2 separate regions of the Homo sapiens genome follow, and region 2 is linked to region 1. Evidence: fine-mapped expression QTL. Tissue or cell type: whole blood. Region 1 holds a variant in brackets; the other region holds the start of a gene. All regions are shown on one strand. Distances are from middle to middle.

Region 1 (8,101 bases):
CATTGTTAGGTCTAAAGCTGCCTCCCTACTACTTTAAGTTTGGTCTAATGGTTTCTCCATACATAGTGAACTGTAACCTAACTTGATGTGTAAACAGTCTGTAACCTGCTATAGTAAAAATAGCTGAGTCTCAGCCAATCACAGGTACCCAACTAACTGTTCAAACCTGGTTCAAATAAGGCAAGCACCCAACTGTTAGCAGTCCAGCTATTTCAGTGCCTTCCTTAGTTTCTTCTACATCACTTTCTTCTGCGGTAGATGTTATCCAACCATTTATGGACGGAACACCCTGAAGTTTCTCTGAACCTACTCTGGGTCTGGGGGCTACCTGATTAATGCATCATTCATTACTCAATTAAACTGTGTTAAATTTAACGTGTCTGAAGTTTTTCCTTTAGTCAGCCAATTAATCTAATTATTGATTTGACTGCATGTAAATCTACGCTTCAACTTGTGAGTTGGAAGTAGAATGAGGTCACAGTTTCAGGTAGCACCAGGCCTCCACGGGTTCATGAGAATTTCCAGGTGTCCAGGGGTGGGATCAGGCCACAGTATCAGATGGCAGCATCGGTGCTTGAGAAGTTTCCCATGTGACCTTAGGGATCCCAGGATGATGCCCCATAGTCCAGGGATCTTGGGGATGGGAAGAGTCTGGTCTGACTCACTGTGAGGCCTCGCTGAAGCTGTCTTTCTCTGATAGTGCAGCCCTCCCTGAATCCAGGGCTGGAGTGACCTCGATCTGCACAGATCTCTCCAAAAAGAACAAAGACCAAGGTCTCTGGTGCAGGCCCTTCTGGGAGAGGGCACTTCTCACGGTGGGCGTCACGGGTGGTTGTGGCCCTGGTTCTAGAGGGTGGTGTGGCTCCAGAACGCACGCACAGCACTAAAACATCCCTGTCCACCCCCAACTCGCCATTTATTTATTTATTTATTTTTAAGAGGAGGAGGCGTGCAAGGGCGGTGACCGGCCGGACCCTCTTCTCCTCCCCGCCTACCGGCCCACGGCTCAGATGGCCACAGGCGAGGCCGCCGCCACCGCTACCTCCTGGCCCACAGCCACCCCTCGAATAGGGGCCACCGGGCCACCCTCCGACGTGCCTTGTTCGCTCCCCGAACCCCGATCTAGCCCCTGGTCGAGCCCGGGCAGAACGAGGAGAAGACCTGGCTCCCAAACAGGACGCTGCGGGGGCGGCCCTCACCGCCTCTCCACCCCCGGAAGCGCATGTTCCTTGCAGCCCTCGGAAAGCCCAGAGGGCGGGGCGGGCGCCTCCTGAGGGCATTGCGGGCTCGGGCAGGCTCACGGGAGAGACGTCACTGGTTCCCATACCAGAGGCCGGGGTGGGGGTATGGGGACGCGGGAGACCCCCGGGATTGAGGAAGGAAGGATTGATGGCTCTGCACACACGCTGCGAAGCGGACACACGCCTGTGTGGAGGGCTAACTTTCAACAGATCCCATCCAGGGAGCCACTCTGCTGCAGAGAAAACTCGGACCCAGAAGCAGCTCCTCTAGGGATGGTTTAGCGCCAGGTTCCCCACGAATGGGCCTTGCGTGAAGGGCGAGGGGCCGGCCACCCTTCCCACTGCCGGTTTCCCAAGACAATGAGCTCTCCGCATGGGGCCTCAACCCTGCTGCACTGCGTCCTGTTGGCGACGACCGGCTATCCCAGGCCAGCCGAGGCTTCATGGCGCTGCCCTATAGTTCTGCCTGGGCATATTCTGACTTGGAGGCCTTTAGTCAGCATCCCACGGATGGCAGCTTAGCCCAGTGGTCCCTCATCCAAGCACAGGCACCAAACGTCTGAACCTGGGGACCTGTGGTACTGGGCAAGAGCACCATGGCAACCACGCATGCTCACTAGCGTGAAATCAACCTGTCTCACATGGTCTAATCCCAGCTCCGGCTTTCTTTTCTTTCCTTTTCTTCTTTCTTCCTTTTTTTTTTTTTTGACGAAGTTTCGCTCTTGTTGCCCAGGCTGGAGTGCAGTGACACCGTCTCAGCTCACTGCAACCTCTGCCTCCCTGGTTCAAGTGATTCTCCTGCCTCAGCCTCCCGAGTAGCTGGGATTACAGGCATGCGCCACCACGCCCGGCTAATTTTTGTATTTTCAGTAGAGATGGGGGTTTCACCATGTTGGCCAGGCTGGCCTCGAACTTCCAACCTCAGGTGATTCGCCCGCCTTGGCCTACCAAAGTGCTGGGATTATAGGCGTGAGCCACAGCCCCAGCCCCAGCTCAGGTTTTCTGAGTGGGTGAACATCCCAACCTTGGTGAATTCTGTCTTCCAATGATAGGAAGAGCCCACATCCAAGGATCAAAAGGATTAAAAAGCCACAGGACATGGTGGCTCAGGCCTGCGGTCCCATTTATTTTGGAGGCTGAGGCGAGAGTATCACTTAAGCGCCGATCACATAGCTCACATAGCGCAGTGAGCAATGGTGGCACCACTGCACTCCAGCCTGTGCCACAGAATGAGACCCTGTCAAAAAAAAAAAAAAAAACAAAAAACAAAGACAAAAAACAAAAAGAAGCCTCATTCCTATGAATGCTTTCCTGCTGCAAATCAGTTATCCCTGTGACGACTTTTCTGACACCCCTTGTTTAAAACTCAAAAGGTCAGAAGGATCCTGAGGCCCTGCTTTCACCGTCTGAACTCCTGTTGCAAATCCAAGACCCAGGAGCTTTTGCCCTCCTGCCCAACGGGAGGCTTCTGTCTTCCTGCGCTCCCTTCGGACATCTGCGTTCAGACGTGTGTCCCAGTCTCCCCATCTAGCGCTGCCCCTGGTGAGCTTGGCTAAGGCTTGGCGCCAGAAGCCAGAGTCTCTCTCGAAACTCGCGCCCGACTCCCCCACCAGGTTAGTGAAAAAACAATTAATAATGGAATTTCACCCACAGCCCGCAAGGCCCATGTACCTGCCTCGCCCCCATGCGGGAACTGAAGATGGAGGCGGGACCGCCCACCGATCCCCCTCTCCTGTCTCTTCACCGCCTTTCAATCAGGCTCAGAGGGTTCTTCTCTCCCGCAGGTTCCGCCAAGCCTGTCCCTTGGCTGTGGTGTCGCTGGATGCTATGTAGGGACGGTGGGAATAGCGTCTATCCATTCGCGCGCGTCACTAATTACATGGGGCATTGGCTCTTTTAAGAGGGTCACGGTTGCTCCTGCCCTTGATCCGGGCTTCATTGAATTCCTTCACTTTGACATTCAGTGCCCTGCACAGAAATCACAAGTCGTCAATACCCACAGCAGCCTAAGCTGTGTTTTGTTTTAATTCAACAGTCCCAAGGTGCCTCCCAAAGTGCTAGGATTACAGGCGTGAGCCAGGCATCTGGCTTTTTTTTTTTTTTTTTTTTGTAGAGACAGGGTCTCCTTATGTTGTCCGGGCTGGTCTCAAACTCCTGGCCTCAAGTGATCCTCCTGCCTCTTATATGCTGGCTTTCTTATTACATGAAATATCTTTTCCCATCCTTTTATAGTCAACAATTGTGTATCCTTCCATTTTATTTTATCGTATTTTTTTGAGATGGAGTCTTGCTGGGTCCCCCAGGCTGGATTGCACTGGCACGATCTCAGCTCACTGCAACCTCCGCCTCCTGGGTTCAAGCAGTTCTCCTGCCTCAGTCTCCCGAATAGCTGGGATTACAGCACATGCCACCACGCCCAGCTAATTTTTCTAGAGACGGGGTTTCACCATGTTGGTCAGGCTGGTCTCAAACTCCTGACTTCCAGTGATCCACCTGCCTTGGCCTCCCAAAATGCTGGGATTACAGGCGTGAGTCACCGCACCCAACCTCCTTCCATTTTAGATGTGTTTTTAAATAAATAATTTATTATTGGATCTTGTCTTTGTCTTTGCCTCTTTTTTTTTTTTTTTTTTTTTTTTTTGAGACAGAGTTTTGTTCTTGTCATGGTCTTGGCTCACTGCAACTTCTGCCTCCCAGGTTCAAGCCTGCCTCAGGCTCCCAAGTACCTGGGATTACAGAGATGTGCCACCTCGCCAGGCTAATTTTTGTATTTTTAGTAGAGATGGGGTTTCATTATATTCACTATGTTGGCCAGGCTGGTAGACAACTCCTGACCTCAGGTGATCCACCCACCTCGGCCCCCCAAAGTGCTGGGATTACAGGTGTGAGCCACCACACCAGGCCAGATCTTGCCTTCCTAATCCACTCTGATAATCTTTGTTTGGGAAATAGGCTAGAAATTCCAGCACGCATAATTCATTTATCAAAGTCTAAAGTCAATTTAAACCTTTGCCTTTTTCCTGAATAATAAAATGACCTTAGATTTACTTAGCTTCACCAATTTGCCTACTCACCCTGAATTACATACTAACTAACCTTGCAGGGAATTTTTAGTGTATCTTTGTATAATCCCACTAGATATCATTAGCACTATTTATACCAAGTACATTTACATTTTAACGTGTATTTGCCACTTTCTTTTCTCTTCATTACTTTTTGCGTCCCATACCTTCTATCTGTGATCAGTTCTCTCCTTTCTGAAATATATGTCTCAGTGGGAATCAGCTGTTGATGAAGTGTCTCTATTTTTATTTTGCTGAAAATACCTTTGTTTCAGGCTTATTTATTTCTTATATATTTTAAAATTTTAAATTATGACATAAAAAACAGAGTAAAGTGCACACAACTTAAGTATATATATATTTATATATTCACCTAACATATATATAATTTATTATTATGTATATTTTTCATTCTTTCTTTCTGTGTATACACAGGCAAATAATTAGGATACACGCACACACATACATACACATGTATCTAGATTGATAGAAAAAAATTAAAAAATCAATCAAGCAAATGTGGCAAAATGTTAACAATTGGTGAATCTTGGTGAAATATATAAGGGGTTCATTGTACAATTCTTCCACCTTTTCTATGGGCTTGAAAACTTTCAAAATAAAAGGTTGGAAGATAACAAACAAATTGTAGTA[T/G]ATTATATATTAAAATGCTATCCCTTTCCAAAGAGGGGTGAAATGCTAATACATAAACATATGTAATATAATATAGATATCACATTTCAGTGGCTTATTGAGCATTCAAAATCTAGAAGAAGCTGAAGCATCTCCTGAAGGCTTCCAGTCCTTCTTGGGTATAATCCTAGAATTATTGCCCATTCCTCTGAAGTAATTCCCAGAATACAGTCCTTCCTAAACCCAAGAAATTGCCTTTTTCAGAGTTTACTTCTCACGTGCACTGCTGAAGATGAGTATCCCTAATCCTTCATAAAGAATCAGCCAGAGTTGTCGTGATAAAGCCAGCACACACAAAAAGGCTTCTTACACATACCTGTCTTAAATCATGTGTAGAGCTTTTTTTTTTTCCAAAAAAAAAAAAAAAAACCCACACACTTTTGACCATCTTTTTTTTTTTGAGCCAGAGTCTCACTCTGTTGCCCAGGCTGGAGTGCAGTGGCGTGATCTTGGCTCACTGCACGCTCCACCTCCTGGCTTCATGCCATTCTCCTGCCTCAGCCTCCCGAGTAGCTGGGACTACAGGTGCCCGCCACCATGCCCGGCTAATTTTTTGCATTTTTAGTAGAGACAGGGTTTCATTGTGTTAGCCAGGATGGTTTTGACCATCTTAAATCAAGAAAATTGGATATTTCCATTCTGGTCTTTGTGGGCCAGATTTTTATATTGGTTTTCAGTAAATGTCTATCTATAATATTTCATAGAGTCCAGTAGCTTAATACTGACATTGACTTGATACAGCATGAAGTTTCTTTTTCTTTTTCCTTTTTTTTTTTAAAATCAATTAGAACATTTAGTTTATTCTGAATTAGGGTTAAAGGCTAATAATATTGGTATTTCCTTTTTTAAATTATTATTATACTTTAAGTTCTAGGGTACATGTGCACAACGTGCAGGTTTGATACATAGGTATACATGTGCCATGCTGGTTTGCTGCACCCATGAGCTTGTCATTTACATTAGGTATTTCTCCTAATGCTATCCCTCCCCCAGCCCCCAACTCCAAGACAGGCCCCGGTGTCCAAGTGTTCTCATTGTTCAATTCCCACCTATGAGTGAGAACATGTGGTGTTTGGTTTTCTGTCCTTGTGATAATTCACTGATACAGCATGAAGTTTCTAGTGCCGCACACAGTATTTAGAAAACCTTTAAGCCTGAATGACTCAGGTGGGATATATGTAAACATAATGTTTATCTTATCTCACAAATGCATGTGAAATGTATAATTACATCTTAGGAATCCAATACGGTCCACAGAGAGTGAGTGGAGGCACCAGATCAATGTTGATTCTTTACACTGGTGAGATCCTACCTGAGGGATATTAAAGACATTCTGCTTTCTGAGAACTCTTTATCGCCAGATGGCAGTTGGGATATGGGAGGAACTAACGCATGCTGTTTTGCATCTGTCCAGATCATTATTTCTATCTTTTGTTTTTTCTTTCTGGTTCAGCATACTTTTTTAAGGGGTTAAGAATTGAAGATTTTCTCAAAAGCTTTCATGAATTTAGAGCATTCCACCCAATATAATAAAAACTGTTAAGAATGTCAGATTTAGGCTGGACGCGGTGGCTCATACCTGTAATCCCAGCACTTTGGGAGGCCAAGGCAGGCGGATCACGAGGTCAGGAGATCGAGACCATCCTGGCTAACACGGTGAAACCCCGTCTCTACTAAAAAATACAAAAAAATTAGCCGGCTGTGGTGGCGGGCGCCTGTAGTCCCAGCTACTCAGGAGGCTGAGGCAGGAGAATGGCGTGAACCCAGGAGGCGGAGCTTGCAGTGAACCGAGATTGTGCCACTGTAGTCCAGCCTGGGCGACAGAGTGAGACTCCATCTCAAAAAAAAAAAAAAGTCAGATTTAGTTCAAACATCTGTTTGTTCTATCTCCAGTCATTAAACCAGTGCTGCTGCATGACACTGTAATTCCCGACTTTTTACATCCAGCCATAAAGTTGACTTTCAGCACAAAAGATACTTATAAACAAATACAAAATTTTATTTTTCTCTTTTATTGATGTAAGGTTTGGCACTCTTTTGACTGGTGCCATTAGACATCTTGATTATTGTGACAACTCTAGACCTGCCTGCTTAATCTAATGTAATCATGTTCAACATCTACAGGTTAATAATCAATCACACAGAGAACTGAGGAACTGATGCTGTTCGTTTGCTTCTATGATACAGAGATGTCTAAAAACTTCAAATGAACATGTTTTGTAGTTTAGTGACTTCTGTATACATAAAGGGACATATTCATACTGGTTCAGTTGTAAATTATTATTCATATAGACCACTGTAGTAGCTTAAACACTATGGGACACCCGCTTATGTGTTGCCTCACACTGCGTGTGATTTTTTCTTTTGTTAAGCAGCACTTATGTAGACTGCATTTCCAAACGTGTTGAGCACTCAGAGTTTAGTCTACAGTAAGTTCTTTTAATGAATACCAGTTTTAATTCATAGACTGCCGTGGCCTTAAAAATATTCTGTACAATATACTGCACTGTGTTGCACAGACACTACTTGCTTTTCTCCATTCGTATTTTTATGAGTAGAATCTGGGCTTTTAAGTTTTCTCTTTTTTTTTTTTGAGACAGAGTTTTGCTGTTGTTGCCCAGGCTGGAGTGCAATGGCACAATCTCCAGCTTACCGCCTCCCGGGTTCAAGCTATTCTCCTGCCTCAGCCTCCTGAGTAGCTGGGATTACAGGCATTTGCTACCACACCCGGCTGATTTTGTATTTTTAGTAGAGACAGAGTTTCTCCATGTTGGTCAGGTTGGTCTCGAACTCCCAACCTCAGATCTGCCTGCCTTGGCCTCCCAAAATTCTGGGATTATAGGCGCAAGCCACCACTCCCGGCCCTCAGCCACGCACCTGGCCCAAAGTTCTCTTCTTATTCTTTGAAGCATGTTGCATATTTCCCTGATGGGATGGATGGTTCTGTAAATGAAAGGGTATTTAAACTTGCTGCTGTTGTTCAATACCATTAATGGTCAAAGTGAACCATTACAAAGAATGTGACAACTTGCTTGTGCCTAAAAGGAGGAATTGGAACTAGAGTGTGTGACTCTGTGAGGACTGTATAGGTTTGTTAATTGACCTATA
Region 2 (8,101 bases), 120 kb before region 1:
CAGCTATTTCACGGGGGTAGGGAGTGGGGACTCACCCAGGAGTTCATGTCTGCAATGAGCTATGATTGTGTTACTGCATTCCAGCCTGCGCAACAGAGTGATACCCCGTATCTTTAAAAAAAAAGTTTTTAAAATAATTATTCACTCATGACCAGTATTGTTTGATTTACCCCCCATCCACTCTTCCCAAATGATTCTGAAGCTAAATGTCAAACATCATATCTCATAAATATCTTTTTATTACACTTGATTTGCTTGACTTAAGATCTAAATGAGCTCCACACATTGTATTAGTTTGAAGTGACACTTCGGTCTCTCTCTCTCTCTTTTTTTTGAGATGGAATCTCGCTGTGTCCCCCAGGCTGGAGTGCAGTGGCGCAATCTTGGCTCACTGCAACCTCTGCCTCCCGAGTTCAAGCGATTCTCCTGCTTCAGCCTCCCAAGTAGCTGGGATTACAGGTGTTCACCACAACACCCAGCTAATTTTTGTATTTTTAGTAGAGACAGGGTTTCACCATGTTGGCCAGGCTGGTCTCGATCTCCTGACCTCGTGATCCACCCGTCTTGGCCTCCCAAAGTGCTGGGATTACAGGGGTGAGCCACTGTGCCCACCTCTTTCTTTTTTTGCACGGAGTCTTGCTCTGTCACCCAAGCTGGTGTGCAGTGGCGAGATATCAGCCCACTGTAACCTCCACCTCCCAGGTTCAAGTGATTCTCCTGCTTCAACGTCCTGAGTAGCTGGGATTACAGGTGCCCGTCACCACGCCTGGCTAATTTTTTTTTTTTTTTTTGTATTTTTGGTAAAGATGGAGTTTCACCATGTTGGCCAGGCTGGTCTCAAACTCCTGACCTCAGGTGATCCGCCCACTTCGGCCTCCCATGGTGCTGGGATTTCAGGTGTGAGCCACCGCGCCCAACCTCTAGGGCCACAGCTATTTTCAAGAACCATGATTTTAAGAAGGCAGAGTAGAAGCCAGAAGACCAGTGAGGGTATTGTTATATATTAATTACAGTATTAATTGCTAGCACTTATTATACACTGGAAACTGTCCTTATGTGCATTAATTTATTTAATCCCCATAGCAATGTTTTAAGAGGAGGTGCTACTATCATCCTTGTACAGAGGAGGAAAATGAAGTGTGGAGGGGAAGGTCATCCCAGCCAGGAAGTATCAGAGCCAGGATTTGAATCCCTCAGCCTGGCCCTGCAGTCCAGGCAATTTGCATTTATGCTTTGCTGCCCCTTGAATGGGGCAGAGGGTGTGATAACAGAAAAGTGGCCTGGTTAAGATAGGTTAAATCTGGCTGGGCACGGTGGCTCGGCCCTGTAATCCCAGCACTTTGGGAGGCTGAGGCAGGTGGATTACTTGGGGTCAGGAGTTCCAGACCAGCCTGGCCAACATGGTGAAACCCCATCTTTACTAAAACTACAAAAATTAGCTGGGTGTGGTGGTGTGCACCTGTAATCCCAGCTACTTGGGAGGCTGGGGCAGAAGAATCTCTGGAACCCAGGAGGCGGAGGTTGCAGTGAGCTGAGATTGCACCACCGCACTCTAGCCTGGGCAACAGAGCAAGACTCCATCTCAAAAAAAAAAAAAAAAAAAAAGAGAGAGAGTTTAACTCAGCAGGGCCTGGAAGTGGGTGGAGGTGGCAAGGGTAGGAAGGAGTCAAGGATAGTGACAAAATAATGATGGGCAGTTCCCATTGAGAGCCTGTGCTATGTCAGGCTATTGAACTATTTTCAACCTCATTTTGTAGATAAGAAAACTGGAACCCAGAAGAAGATAAGTTTTCAGCCCAAGGTCCTACACCTGAGAAGGGTGAAGCCAAGTCTAACTCTTAGAACATCTCACAGCTGAGCCTATAAACCCTGCCTAGGGTGTGTCTTCAAAGGACACATAAATGGTCTAGAAATTCTGCAAAAACAACGGGAAAGGGTGCCAGGGGCGAGAAGTTCTTATTTGGGGGACCCTCTCAGTAAGGAGTGCCTGAGGGTCTTCCTTTCCCTGGCTCCTCCCTCCCCTGAGTTCCCCAAATCCCTACACCTCCCTGTGTCTCAGACCTGCTTTCCCTACCTCTCTCGCCTACCAGCCAGACTGAGTCACCTCTGGGTCCTCAGCTTTGTCTAGCTTGAGTCAGGCATGCATGAGACCTCATGCCTGGAATTTTTTTTTTTTTTGAGACGGAGTCTCGCTCTGTCGTCCAGGCTGGAGTGCAGTGGCACGATCCCGGCTCACTGCAAGCTCCGCCTCCCGGGTTCACGCCATTCTTCTGCCTCAGCCTCGAGAGTAGCTGGGACTACAGGCATCCGCCACCATGCCCGGCTAATTTTTTGTATTTTTTTTGAGTAGAGACGGGGTTTCACCGTGTTAGCCAGGATGGTCTCAATCTCCTGACCTCGTGATCCACCCGCCTTGGCCTCCCAAAGTGCTGGGATTACAGGCGTGAGCCACCGCACCTGGCCTTTTTTTTTTAGACACTCTCGCTCTGTTGCCCAGACAGGGTTTTGCTATGTTGCAGAGGTGCAATCTTGGATCACTGCAAACTCTGCAACCTCTGCCTCTTGGGTTCAAATGATTCTCATGCCTCAGCTTCCCAAGTAGCTGGGTCTACAGGCGTGCCCCACCACGCCCAGATAATTTTTTTGTATTTTATTTTATTTTTTTCAGTAGAGATGGGGTTTTACCATGTTGGCCAGGCTGTCTCAAACTCTTGACCTCAAGTGATCTGCCCACCTAGGCCTCCCAAAGTGCTCAAAGTGCCTGTGCATGAGCTCAGCCATATGCTTTTTTTTTTTTTTTTTTTTTTTTTTTGAGATGGAGTCTCCATCACCCAGGCTGGAATGCAGTGGCACGATCTCAGCTCACTGCAACCTCCACCTCCCGAGTTCAGGCAATTCTCCTGCCTCAGCCTCCTGAGTAGCTGGGATAACAGGTGTGCACCACCACACCCAGCTAATTTTTATATTTTTAGTAGAGATGGTGTTTCACCATGTTGGTCAGGCTGGTCTTGAACTCCTGACCTCGTGATCCGCCCGCCTCAGCCTCCCAAAGTGCTGGGATTACAGGCATGAGCCACCGCGCCCAGCCGGCCACATAAAATTTTAATGAAGCAATTTGATAGGCTTAAGGAAAAGCAGGCCTTCTCTGTGTAAAGGCATTCACACAGGGGCTGCTCTGAAAATAGCTCCAGGGACCATTCCCTGGAAACTCCAGAATTAAGATAAATGTTGTTGCAGGAAACCCCTCCTCAGAAGCTGTGGGACAGGATAACTCAGTGGTTCATACCTGTAATCCCAGCATTTTGGGAGGCCCAGGTGGGAGGACCATTTGAGGCCAGGAGCTGGAGACCAGCCTAGGCAACATAGCAAGACCCCTGTTTCTACAAAAAAAATTCTAACAATTAAAAAAAAAAAAAAAAGCTCTGCCCCTAGGCTGGAAATCAAGGCTGCTCTGATGTCACAAAGTGACATAGATCCTCCAGATGAGAGTGGGATGTCCTATTCTCACTACTGCTACGATTACAAAGAGCAGACTTTCTGACAGCTCATGACTTGAGACTACAGTTTTTCAGCCCCAGGTCCTTGGTGTAAATGAACACAAGCTCTTTTCAGAGGTTCACACCCCAACAGAAGATGAATAATCCCCAATCTGATTATTCAAGAGATAATGCAAAATTATCTTTTTTTTTTTTTTTAAGATTTCTTCCTGGAAAGAGAGAAACATTCCTGATAAAATGCTTATGCAATTTCTGGATGAACTTTAATGGGATCAAGTGTTGTTCTGGTAACCAGGCACCCACTCAAAAGTCCCTCAAGATATTAATGACCTGGAACCGAACGAATATCTTTTTTTTTTGAGACAGAGTCTCCCTCTGTCGCCCAGGCTGGAGTGCAGTGGCGTCATCTCTACTCACTGCAACCTCTGCCTCCCGGAACCGAACATCTTTTTCTAACCATGACTATCCTACCACCTGCTAGAAAACGGCCCCACGGGACGCGGTGGCTCACGTCTGTAATCCCAGCACTTTGGGAGGACAAGGTGGGAGGAACGCTTGAGCTCAGGAGTTCGAGATCAGCCTGGGCAACATAGTGAGAACTCCGTCTCTGCAAAAAACAAATTTTATATACATGTATGTGTGTGTGTGTGTGTATATATATATATGTATATAAATATATATATAGATATAAATATATATATATAAAATGTCGGGTGTGGTGGCAACGTGCCATAGTCCCAGCTACTCGGGAGGCTGAGGTTGGAGGATCGCTTGAACCCGGGAGTTTAAGGCTGTAGTAAGCTGAGATCGAGTCACTGCACTCAAGCCTGCGTGACAGAGCGAGACTCTGTCTCAAAATAAAACAAAAGAAAAAGGAAAAAAAACGGCCCCGAGGCTATGAGTGTACTGGGGCCTCTCCCTGGGTTTCTACTTCTCTCCCTATCTCTGTTCCTACATGAGTATGTCTGTGTGTCTCTGAGCGTCTGTCCCTCGCACTTTGAGTGTCTCCCTGTTCTCTGTTTTTTCTGGGTCTCAAAGCGTCCAGGCATTGCACTCTGGCTTTCCTCGGTCTCGCCCTCGCCCCAGTCCCGCTCGGCGGTCCCCCGCCCTCTGCCCCAGGCGTCCGTGGCCCCTTTAAGGCGTGCTCCGCCCCCGCCCCGCCCTTCCCGGGGTCAGTGCCGTAGCGCCCGGCTCCTGCAGGCGCTCGGCCTCCGCTCATTCCTGACCCCGCAGTGGGCGCGATGGCGGAGGCTGTACTGAGGGTCGCCCGGCGGCAGCTGAGCCAGCGCGGCGGGTCTGGAGCCCCCATCCTCCTGCGGCAGGTGCGGGTGGCTGGACCTAGGAGGGGACTGCTGGGCACTAGGCGGCAGCAAGGACGGAACTCCGGGGTCTCTTAATAGGGAGAGATCCGGGGGGACCCACGCCTGCATCTTGCGGAAAGCGGGGTGGAGGTTTAGGGCTGGACTCTTGGGTCCTTTAAAGGTGAGTGGTCTGGGGGCCTCTGGGCTTGGGGCCAGACCCCTGGGTCCTCTATGAAAGAACGTGCTGGGGACCCTGATTTTGGGATGTTAGGAAGTTGGAACTCTTTTGTTCTGATAGGGGAAGGTAGTGGGGCTCCGGACTCCCGACTCCCGGGGAAAGAGTGGGCTGGGGTTTCTGCTTCTGGATCTTAGGAAGAGGATAGGGTCAGTCTGGACTACTTGGCCTCCAGTGGGTGGAAGTCCGGTTCTGCGCCCTCACCTGGGTCCCCCGTTCCCAGATGTTCGAGCCTGTGAGCTGCACCTTCACGTACCTGCTGGGTGACAGAGAGTCCCGGGAGGCCGTTCTGATCGACCCAGTCCTGGAAACAGCGCCTCGGGATGCCCAGCTGATCAAGGAGCTGGGGCTGCGGCTGCTCTATGCTGGTCAGTCCGGGGACCAAACTCATGGATCCCAGCGGGGCTGGGCTGCAGCGTCAGTGGAATGGGAAGCTGGGGCCCAGAACTCCTGAGTCTGAGGGAGAAGGATCTGGGCTGGGACTCCCAGGTCCTTTCTGTACCCTCCGGACCTGTCCCTCCTCTCTCTCCCAGTGAATACCCACTGCCACGCGGACCACATTACAGGCTCGGGGCTGCTCCGTTCCCTCCTCCCTGGCTGCCAGTCTGTCATCTCCCGCCTTAGTGGGGCCCAGGCTGACTTACACATTGAGGATGGAGACTCCATCCGCTTCGGGCGCTTCGTGAGTTGGGTGCTGGGTCCCCAAGAGGGTGGTGGCCTGGACTTCTTAAACTTAAGGGAAGAGGGGACTGGGGGCCTGGGATCCTGAGTCCTTGGGGAGGAGGGACCTCAGGACCTGGGTTTCTGACCCCTGAGCTCATATTTCTGGGAGGGGGGCACCATAAACCCAGGTGGGGCACTGGGGCAAGAGGCTCTGGGCAGGTGGGGCACTGGCGGAACTCCTAAGTCAACAGCATTTAAGGAGTTTCCTTCCTAAAGCTTAGGGGCAGCCCTTTGGCCTGGCATGCATCTCCATAAAAGTTGATTAGGGGCTGGAATTCTGAGGGCAGGGCTGAGAAGGAAAGAGACCCAGTCCTGTCTTGCGGAAACCTCCGTTTGAGGAAGGAGCATCTGGGTGCTTAGAACCCGGAGCCCAGGACTAGGAAAAGGACGGTGAGGACCCTGGAGTGCAACATTTAAGGAGGCACTCGCTCTCAGGGTCCTGTAAGTGCAGGGTCCGCACCTGTGAGTGAGCGCCTCCTTAAATCTTGCACCAACAGCCTCACCCTAGTCCTAGCCCTGCCGTTGCCTCACACTGGGAAGTCTAAAGGTTCCTGCCTTCCTCACTTTATTTGCCACAGGCACCAGCGGGTTTCCGGCCAGAATTGCAACCAGGCCGAAGGAGGGAGGGCCAGGGGAGTTGCCCTCAGAGAGAGGGAAACAGCTGGCAGGGCATTCTTCTGATCAATTGCTAAAGATGTATAATAAAGTTTGGCTGACTTTGGGGACAGAATGTCAGGTGACAGAAGACAGCCTCCAGGTTAGAGAGTTTTGCCAAATAGGGACAGTTCATTTGAGTCAGAGTGTTTAGAGGAAATGAGGGCTGTGTGTGGGAAGAGAGTTCAGCTACAATGGTTACAGAAGCTTTATTTCAAGCCTTTCTCTGGAAGCAGGCAAAAATGCATTGTACATGTATGTACATTGTACATAATAGGTGCTAACAAACATGTCTTGAAATGAACGAAGGGTTTAGCTATGGTAGATTTAGCTTCAGTGTTTTTTTTTTTTCTTTCTTTCTTTCTTTCTTTTTTTTTTTTATTTGAGACTGGGTCTCTGTCACCTAGGCTGGAGTGCAGTCAGCCTTGACCTCCCAGGCTCAGGTGATCCTCCCACCTTAGCCTCCCTGGTAGCTGGGACCACAGGCATGCACCAGCACGCCTGGCTGATTTGTGTATGTTCTTGTAGAGACAGGGTTTTGTTATGTTGCCCAGGCTGGTCTTGAACTACTGGGCACAAGTGATCCTCCTACCTTGGCCTCCTAAAGTGCTAGGATTACAGGGCTTCTGAAAGTGCTGGGATTACAGGCATGAGCCACTGCACCCACCCTTTTTTGTTGTTGTTGTTTGTTTGTTTGTTTTTGAGAAAAGGTCTTGCTCTGTCACCCAGGCTGGAGTGCAATGGTGGGATCATAGCTTACTGCAGCCTTGACCTTCTGGGCTCAGGTGATCCTCATGCCTCAGCCTCCTAAGTAGCTGGGACTACAAGCACCTGCCACCATACCTGGCTAATTTTTTAATTTTTTGTTGAGCTGTAATCTCACTATGTTGCCCAGGCTTAATAGCTTTATTGATATAACCCACATACCATATAATTTATCTATTTCGAGTGCACAATTCAATGACTTTTAGTATATTCAGAGTTGTACATCCATTACTACCATTAATTGGAAAATGTTTCCATTACTCCAAAAAGACCCCACACCCCTTAGCCATCACCCCTATCCTTCCCTTTTCCCCCCTCAGCCTTAGGCAACTTTTTTTTTTTTTTTTTTTTAATTTGAGACAGGGTCTCACTTTGTTGCCCAAGCTAGAGTGCAGTGGTGCGATCTTGGTTTACTGCAACCTCCACCTCCCGGGTTCAAGTGATTCTCTTGTTTCAGCCTCCCAAATAGCAGGGATTACAGGCGTGCGCCACCAAGCCCAGCAAATTTTTTTGTTTTATTTATTTATTTATTTATTTGAGATGGAGTTTTGCTCTTGTTGCGCAGGCTGGAGTGCAATGGCGCTATCTCAGCTTAGCGCAACCTCAGCCTCCCGAGTAGCTGGGATTACAGGCATGCGCCACCATGCCTAGCTAATTTTGTATTTTTAGTAGAGACGGGGTTTCTCCGTATTGGTCAGGCTGGTCTCCAACTCCCTATCTCAGGTGATCCGCGCGCCCTGGCCTCCCAAAGTGTTGGGATTACAGGCATGAGCCACTGCGCCCAGGCACATTTTTATTTATTTTTTTGAGACAGTCTTGCTCTGTCACCCAGGCTGGAGTGCAATGGCAAGCTCTCAGTTCACTGCAGCCTCTGCCTCCTGAGCGCAAGCGATTCTGCTGTCTCAGCCTCCCAAATAGCTGGGATT

Evidence for each region. PIP is the estimated chance that this variant, and not a neighbour inherited with it, causes the effect.
Region 2: it holds the start of ETHE1, and the variant in region 1 is fine-mapped to the expression of ETHE1 in whole blood (TOPMed, PIP above 0.99).

Annotation. Positions count from the first base shown.
Region 1 is chr19:43,401,331-43,409,431 of GRCh38, reverse strand. It overlaps a transcript of TEX101 not described here and the pseudogene LOC110467528. Among named protein-coding and RNA genes, the nearest start is that of TEX101, 9.5 kb to the left of the region's middle. The variant T/G (reference allele first, on the strand shown) is at 4,955.
Region 2 is chr19:43,523,815-43,531,915 of GRCh38, reverse strand. ETHE1 (ETHE1 persulfide dioxygenase) reads left to right here and starts at 4,715. Exons shown (of 7, transcript NM_014297.5): 1 at 4,715-4,819; 2 at 5,257-5,401; 3 at 5,567-5,715. The coding sequence starts at 4,739. It also overlaps a transcript of ZNF575 not described here. RefSeq lists silencers at 590-761, 4,564-4,753, 6,104-6,263 and enhancers at 5,364-5,543, 5,059-5,563, 5,564-6,069.